Linked DNA regions of Homo sapiens: region 2 is linked to region 1. The links come from fine-mapping of genetic effects on gene expression. A gene starts in region 1. The other region holds a variant in brackets. All regions are shown on one strand. Distances are between the middles of the regions.

Region 1 (4,387 bases):
GGCCAGCAGCAGCAGCACCGGCAGCAGGAGCGACTCCATGGCTGCACGGGGCTCTGCCTGGCCTCGCCTCTCCACACCCCTCCGAGACCGACGCCGTCGGCGCTCCAGCTTCCCGCCGGCTCGGGCCGCCTGTTGCGCGCGCCCCGTGGCCCCGGAGGCCGCGGGAGAAGTCCCGCCCAGGGCGGCCCGGCGGCGCGCGGGGGACACCCGCGGCGGCTCCAATGCTGAGGTTGCGGCGGACGCGGCGGGGGCTCGCGGGGGCCCCGGGGGCTCCGAGGGGCCAAGGGAGCGCCGCGCGGCCCCGAGCCCCCTCCCTCCAGCCCGGCTACTCAGTTTTACCCCTTCAAAGTTAGCCGGGCGCGACTGTCGGCAGCCGCCCAGGGCTGCGGGTCGGGCGGCGTCTGCGCGGCCTGGAGGACGCACCGCTGAGTCCGGACAGTACTTGAGGCGAAGGTAAAGAGGGCGGAGGAGGCGCAGCCTTTCAGGCACTGCCCGGCCCGCCGCGGTGCACCGGCACTGAGGCTGGCGAACTCGCTGTCTGTGCACCTGGCATGCGCAAAGACCTCCCCCCAGCGCTCCCAGTTCACTGCGGAGAGAGTACCCGCTTGGAATGCGCCCTCCGGGGTCTGGGGGGGCCACACTGGCCTCTTCGAGGCCTGTTCGGGAGAAAGGGGGTGTCGCAGACGGGAGTCAGTTACTGGCAAGCGCCGCGGGCACCCGGTTATAGGGTTGAGTCGGATGGCGGTCCCGGGGCCAGCAGAGGAAGGGGGAGGGGAGAGAGGCTGCCAGAGCTTGAGCGCGCTCCCTCGCGCTAAGGCTGGCTTCGAAGGGCTTGGGGGCGCGTCTGTCCAGGATCCGAGGTGGGAGCGGAGTTCCCCCCACAGAGCAGTTGAGGGTCTGCGGGCGTTTTCGTCTAGGAAATCAAAGTTAACAACGCAGTCCGACCCTCCACGTCAAGTTTGTGGAAACGGGGAGATGGCAATTTGTCCAAGAAAATCAAAGCCCCGGTCTTTCTAATGGCCGGGGGTGGCGGGGAATGGGGAAGAGGGAAGGGGAGGCAACAACAGTACCGGCCAGGAGAGGCGGGGCCGCCGCCGTGGGTACCGGGTGCTTCTCTTCTCTCCGTTTGGGCTGGGGTGTCGCTCCAAGGTCCGCCGCCGCCGCCGCCGCCGCCGCCGCCGCGGGAGGAAGCCCTCCTAGCTCAGTTGCACGTCGCTGGGGTCCGCCTCAGCAGCTGCCACAGTCGACGATTTTGTCGCCGCCGAAGTTTACTTGCAGGAGCGTCTTGATTTCATCTTCCCGGAGAGGCGCTGGCCGCGCTGCGTTGGGCTCCCTTCCTCCCGGGCGCTCGCGCACTCGGGAGGTCTGTCTCGCTTTCTCTGTCTGTCTCGGGCTGTGTGTGAATGTGTGAGAGAGAGAGGAAGAGTGAGTGTGTGGTGTGGGGAGTGTGAGTGTGGAGTATGAGCAAGCAGGAGGCAATGGGTTTGGGGTAGGAGGTTTAGGATTTCGGATGAAATCGCTCAGCCGGAATGCTGCGGAGCGCAACGCGCCAAGGGCCAGCGCCGGGCTAGGGACGCGGGTGCCAGTGCCTCCCGGGCAAGCCAGGCATGGTGCACGGGAGCTGTGCTGCCGTCTGTGCCCGCTCGTCCGTCTCCGCGCTGCGCCAGCCGCCGCCGCTACTGCTGCTGCTGCTCCTCCGGATGCCGCAAACTACTGGCCGCGGAGTCTGGAGAAAGCCGGAGAAAGCTCAAGCTGCCGAGCCCGGCTACGCCAGGCCCTGGCCAATCAGCGCGCCGCCAGCGGGCTCCAGTCTTGGGGCGGGGCCAAGCGGAGGCGGGGGGTAGCGGGGGGGCGGGGCCAAGCGGAAACTTCACACCGGCGGGACCAAGTGGTACCCCGGCCCATGGAGCCCTGGCGGGATTCATGGGAGGACGGACAGACAGGCCAGGCAGGCCAGGCAGGAGCAATAGGGCAGGAATGAGCAGGGAGGCGGTGTGCTGGCGCTGCGGCTGAGCCTCGCCGGGAACTGTGCGCTTCTCATGTTTGCAGAGATTTCAGGAAAGATGAGGATGATATGATTGTCTTATCGTGTTTACCTCCCTTACATATCTTCATATCTTGAATATAATATATACATATATATACACATATATATATATATACACACATATATATATCCCTCTATTTCTCCTTGTCTCTTCACCCTAAAAAATCGTCTGTTTTTGTTTTCCTCTCTTCTCATTCTCTGGTAGTGGAAGGAAGAAAGGGAAGGAGAAAGCGCCCCTGAGGTGGTCATTCATCCAGCTCTTAGCCGGTGTGTCTTCACATCAGGCCAGAGCCACGGCCGCCACCCCCCCGGACCGTCACCCCCATCCTTCCACCCCGGGCAGACGCCGCACTACTCTCTGCGTGCCGCACTCCCAGCAGGGCCCCTGGATCGGTTCGCTCTTGTCTGTTGCTTGTTAATCAAATGGGATATGTGGCACAGAGAATGAGCTACGGAGGGGGCCGGACACATTTCATTGCCCCTCACCCCACCCTGTTGGAGAATTTAGCTCCCTATAAATAAACTGTACGTTTGAGAAGAGCCGGTGGAGCGGACGCCGCCGCGCCGCGCCAAGCCAGCAGAGCTCAAAGCCGGGCAGGAGCTCTGGGGCGGGCACGCCATACATGTCCGCTTAGGTCGCCGACAGCTGGGAGCCGGCGCCGATGTGCAGGGCGCCCCAGCCTTCCCGCGGGGTCTCGGTCCCAGGGGGCTGCCAGCTCCACTTGGGCGGCGGTGGTGGCTGCGGCATGTGCCAGTACTGGGAAGCGGGAGGCCGGCGTGGCCAGGGCTGACATCAAGCTCATCCTGCCTTCTGCACTGAAGGCTCCCTGGGGGCAGCGGGGCATTCCTCCCCACCCGGGCTCTGAGGCTTTTAATTAAGGTCGCCAGCGGCAAAAAAATCAAAAACGTGCCCGTTAAACAAGTTTTTTTTTCTCTTAGAATGTGGGGAAGCTGCTTCTGAATTCACAATTCTTGGAAGAGTAAAAATGTCTTCTGAGTGAGTCGTCTCGGATATTTGGGAGTGGGATAAGCAGACTCATAATTAGCCCAGCGACATTGGCTCGAGCCTGTGGGCTTCACATGAGCGTCATTTTTGCCCTCTAAAAAGCGTTAAACAAGAAAAGGAAACCGGCATTTGGACACATAATGGGTTTTCTCAAAACTGCCATCTTCTTGTGGAGAGCAACCCAGCTGCTTTTTAAAATATTTTTCCTTCCAAGAAGAGCTACTTTAGCAGCCTTTACCTTGGCGGTGGGAGAGGGGAAAGGCGGCTTCCTCTTACAGAAAGAAATTATTTCGCGAGTGAGATTGCGATCCCCTGAATATGTAGCCGAGGCCAAAGGGAGAGCGTAGGGAGCCTGATCCGCTTTCCGCGTGGGGGTCGTTTCACTGTTTCACGTTAGGATGTGATTCGGCCCAGAACAACAGGGAGAAAACCGATGCTTCTGCAATGAGTATCATTTAATTTTGGTCATTTAGAGCTGCGGGTGGACACCAGAGTGGTGGCTCAAGGGAGCCCGGTGGCCCGACCGGTTTTCTCCAGACACCGTTGGAGAAATGGGCAAGTAGTAGAGAATGACAACATGGCAGGCAGCGGTGGGCGCACCTCGCGGGCTCCGCGAAAGGAAGGGTTCCATTTGATTTATCACAGTTATTTACCTTTGATGTCAGAGCATGGGAATGAAGTGCATCTTGGTCTAATTAAAAAGGCCTAAAAAGGCATTTGAAATGGGTTTGCTATCTGATCACGGGATGTGAATTCGGCGTTTGGCAGCTTTCTAAAATATTGCTTGGACTATTTAAACAGAACAATTAGCAGCATGCTAAAATGTTTGCATGCTATGCTTAGAAGCTTTTAGCTGTAAACTTTAAGGCGATCTGTTCCCCCTTTAAGTTAAAAAAGGATGATGCTGCTTCCTTGTGGCGAAGGCTGTCAGGAACCCACTGATCAATAAAAGTAAACTGGCGCCTCCACGGCTTGATTGAGCGGGAGCAAAGAGTCTGAGAAGTAGTCTCGGCCATTAACAATCCCCCAGGTAACGAGAAATGGAAGAATTACTCAGGTAAAATGATTAACATTGTCGTAGCATCTGAAAAGATGCACACAACAAGATAAGAAGACTGCAGACCTCTTACCTTAGGGAGTGCTAATAGAATGTCTATATTCTGCTGTCTTTTAAAGATAAATAGGAGAATTCAATTCATGTACAATGTCATTACCTTCATAATTGCAATCACAATGTAAAGACATGTTCTGCATTTGCAAAGACAAACCCTCTTTGCTAAGGCGATGCCACCGTGTTCCCTGCTTCCTGCTCGCTGTTCACACTCCAGGCACCC
Region 2 (4,387 bases), 210 kb after region 1:
CCTGCAGTGTGCCGAGATCGCGCCACTGCACTCCCAGCCTGGGCGACAGAGCGAGACTCCATCACAAAAAAAAAAAAAGGGGGGGTGTGAATTCGGCTGGACACAGTGGCTCATACCTGTAATCCCTGCACTTTGAGAGGCCAAGGTGGGCAGATCCCTTGAGCCCATGAGTTCGAGACCAGCCTGGGCAACATGGCGAAACCCCGTGTCTACAAAAAATACAAAATATTAGCCGGGCATGGTGTCACGTGCCTGTAGTCCCAGCTACTGGAGGGGTGAGGTGGGAGGATCACCTGAGCCTTGGAGGTCGAGGCTGCAGTGAGCCGTGATCGCACCACTGCACTCCAGCCTGGGTGATAGAGTACGACTCTGTCTCAAAAAAAAAAAAAAAAAAAAAAAAAAAGAGCTGAATTTTATGATATGTAAAATATATCTCAATAAAGACCCTTTAAATATTAGACTGACACATAACGCTGTTTTAAGTGTCTGGCATATAAGCAACTCATTTAATCCTTATAACAGCCCTATGAAGCAAGTAATATTATTTATCTTTTCATAAATGAGGAAACTGAGGCACAGATAGATTAGGTGACTTGCCAAAGAGCTCACAACCAGTAATTGGTAAAGAAGGAACTCCAACCTAGCCAGTCTGGCTCTAGAGTCTGTGATCTTAACCATGGCTTCCATTTGTGGGAAGAAAAATTTGTACAGATACACATGTATATGGCAATGTGTGGAAGGAATCATAAGGCACTTTAATCAGTGATCCTCTCTGGGCAGTGGGAGTGAGGGTGGGCAGCAAAGCAAGACTTTCACTTATTACTTTATACTTCTTTGAATTCTGAATTTTTTATACATTTTCTAATAACTCATGTATTCATTTTGTAGATAAGAAACTTCTACTTTTAAATCAAAACATTGGTTATCTTTGATTTGTTACATTATACACCTTTAATTTCCCTGAACATTTTTACATTTTCCATGTTCTTTGGGATATGTGTGTCTTCGGGCCAAGTTCTCAAATAATTACCATGACATGTTTTCTGCTACATTTTGTCTTGCCAGTGTCAGAGTCCCAAGATGGGGCTGAGGCCAAGAAGGGTTGGGTAGGAGGCTACGGAAAACTTCATGAAAGAAGGGCCTGTATTGCTCGCTCTGCTTGGGCAAGACTGTGATTGGGCTGGATTCAAGGCTGTCCTGAGCTGCAGTGTGCAGCTCTGAACTCCCTGGATCCCCTGGGGCACTCTAAGGGGGGCTGGCTGCTTCAGAAATTGCTTCTATTCTGTAGGGGAATAGATTATCTGCATGCATGTGCACATGTGCGAACAAACCCATTTAATGAAAGCAGGAGTTTGGACTTGTGCCTGAAGAGTAGGAGTGATTCTGCCCTGATGTGTGAGTGTGTAGCATGGGTGTTTTTGTTCTTGTTTGTTTCACTTAATATTTAAAGATACTCAAATGGGACTATGTTATGAAAGCAACTAAGTGTTGTGGAGTGTCTTTACTAACATAGGAAATAATAGTTTGTAAACTTTAGGAAGCATTAGACTGTTGAGATGCTTAAAAGAAAATGGAAAGAGTTGATGTTTAGACTGCGATTAACTCTCTTTGTAATCATTCCCTTGGTTCGATGATGTTGTGGAGCTGAGGAATAATAACAAGGTTGGTTGGTTTGTTTTTAATATGTACTTACTGTATACTAACACCCTACAAAGGGCATATTGTGAGAGAATAGGATATTCTTTTTTTATTATTATACTTTAAGTTCTAGGGTACATGTGCACAATGTGCAGGTTTGTTACATATGTATACATGTGCCATGTTGGTGTGCTGCACCCGTTAACTCGTCGTTTACATTAGGTATATCTCCTAATGCTCTCCCTCCCCCTTCCCCACACCCCACAACAGGCCCCGGTGTGTGATGTTCCCCACCCTGTGTCCAAGTGTTCTCATTGTTCAATTCCCACCTATGAGTGAGAACATGAGGGTTTGGTTTTCTGTCCTTGTGATAGTTTGCTGGGAATGATGGTTTCCAGCTTCATCCATGTCCCTAAAAGGACATGAACGCATCCTTTTTTATGGCTGCATATTATTCCATGGTGTATTTGTGCCACATTTTCTGAATCCAGTCCATCATTGTTGGACATTTGAGTTGGTTCCAAGTCTTTGCTATTGTTTATAGTGCCGCAATAAACATACATGTGCATGTGTCTTTATAGCAGCATGATTTATAATCCTTTGGGTATACACCCAGTAATGGGATGGCTGGGTCAAACGGTATTTCCAGTTCTAGATCCTTGAGGAATCGCCATACTGTCTTCCACAATGGTTGAACTAGTTTACAGTCCCACCAACAG[T/C]GTAAAAGCGTTCCTGAGAATAGGATATTATTTCATGAAGGTTTTCTCTTTGAAGATTTCATATTCAATAAGGACTGATTAAAAGATATTTGGACAGGTCGGGCGCAGTGGTTCACACCTGTAATCCCAGCACTTTGGGAGGCTGAGGTGGTCAGGAGTAAGAGACCAGCCTGACCAACATGGTGAAACCCCCGTCGCTACTAAAAATACAATAAATTAGCTGGGCGTGGTGGCATGCGCCTGTAATCCCAGCTACTCAGGAGGCTGAGGCAGGCAGAATTGCTTGAACCCGGGAGGCGGAGGTTGCAGTGAGCCAACATCGCACTACTGCACTCCAGCCTGGGCGACAGAGAGAGACTCTGTCACACACACATGCGCGCACACACACACACACACACACACAAAGAAAAAAAAAGAAACTGAAGGGGGGAAATAGTCTTTTCAAATGGCCTATCTTCTCTTATATGCCACTTTTTTTTTTTCAGACGGTGTTTTGCTCTTGTTGCCCAGCCTAGAGGTGCAATGGCGTGATCTCGGCTCACCACAACCTCTGACTCCCGGGTTCAAGCAATTCTCCTGCCTCAGCCTCCCAAGTAGCTGGGATTACAGGCACGCACCACCACGCTCCGCTTATTTTGTATTTTTAGTAGAGACGGGGTTTCTCCATGTTGGTCAGGCTACTCTCGAACTCCCGACCTCAGATGATCTGCCTGCCTTGGCCTCTCAAAGTGCTGGGATTACAGGCGTGAGCCACCGCACCTGCCCTTATCTGCCACTTTCCTGCTGAGGAAGTACATGGCCTTTCTGGACAGGAAAATGTGTCCAGAATCTCTTACGCTGTACCCTAGGTTGCCCTGTGTACATAATGTAGCTACTTTACCTTTCTAGTTATGATTCTGAGTAATTGTCTACCCTGCTATATATGCTGTATATAGCCATTGGTGAATTGTCTATATCCAGGCAAGTGCCACGTCAGTTTGATTTGCTTTGTGGACATTGCTAATAGGTTTGTGTTTTCCCAGAAAAAAAGTGGTGAGAAACTGGCTGGAAGAAACAAGAGCCTTACCAACTCACCACTTCATTTTTTTTAATGAAAATTTTGAGGATATGGTAATGAGAACACCATCAGATGAAGCATGACAATCCCAAAGAACTGATGTGCACTTGATAAATGCTTGTGGTTAGAACAGCTGACCCATTTTCCCCAGTTTCCATAAGCCATGTCATCCCTGATTAAAGAGCCAGGTAGGTCAATGTCAAATAAGTACTTACTCTTCCATTTGCTAGATGTTATAGGAGGAATATTTAAAAATTTTTAAGTGTTCAGAATGCTACTAAACTTTTAGGTATTGGAGAGGGGTAGGAATATAAGCAAGCTGCTATGACCAACACACAACTAAAGTGCATGTCCCAAGAATAAAAGGTTAGGCCTGATGATCATGTACTTTAATTCCTCAAGGTAAGGTCGGCATAATCTAAGAGCAAAAAACCAAATACAAGCCCTTGGGGTCAGCCACACTTGAAAAGGAGGAGGAAATTCAAACAACAAAGTAAACTAGAAAGAGCAGTAAAAGGGAAGAAAATCAGGATGTTACACAGTCAAAACAAAAAAAGAAAAATATTTTTAGTGGTACCAAATGCAACAAAGACTTCAAGAAAGAGAAGCAGCAAAAAGCGATTTGACCAGGAGGAAGTTAGCTGTGGTTTCCGAGGTTAAGTGGTTTCTGACTGGGCAGGTGGTTTCTATTATATAAATGGTGGCTTACATAGAATGAGATGTTGAGATCATCTTATTTCACACAGAACATTAAAGGACCATTATAATTAGACTCACTCATTCATTCATTTATTCCATTAGCATTTACTGTGTTCTTACAAGTGCCTGATGCTACTAAGCTCCATGGGGTCAGGGTACCTAATAGAAAAACCATAATTAAATCATAATGGCTTCTCTCTCACAAGCAATCCGGGTGAAGTTTTAAAGCGATGACTTAAAAATGAAAGTCTTATTTCCCTATAGCTGTTTCAGT

Direction of the effects. Alleles are on the strand shown, and positions count from the first base shown. SD is a standard deviation of normalised expression in the study named.
For the expression in prostate of the gene that starts at base 1,715 in region 1, allele T in region 2 goes with a lower level than allele C (small effect, 0.32 SD a copy in GTEx).

Evidence for each region. PIP is the estimated chance that this variant, and not a neighbour inherited with it, causes the effect.
Region 2: its variant is the best candidate, but not a certain one, in a credible set for the expression of PCDH19 in prostate (GTEx, PIP 0.54).

Annotation. Positions count from the first base shown.
Region 1 is chrX:100,408,559-100,412,945 of GRCh38, forward strand. It overlaps PCDH19 (protocadherin 19), which reads right to left and starts at 1,715. Exons shown (of 6, transcript NM_001184880.2): 1 at 1-1,715. The coding sequence starts at 39.
Region 2 is chrX:100,622,005-100,626,391 of GRCh38, forward strand. It overlaps LOC105373298 (a long non-coding RNA gene), which reads right to left and starts at 152. Exons shown (of 3, transcript XR_938469.2): 1 at 117-152. The variant T/C (reference allele first, on the strand shown) is at 2,358.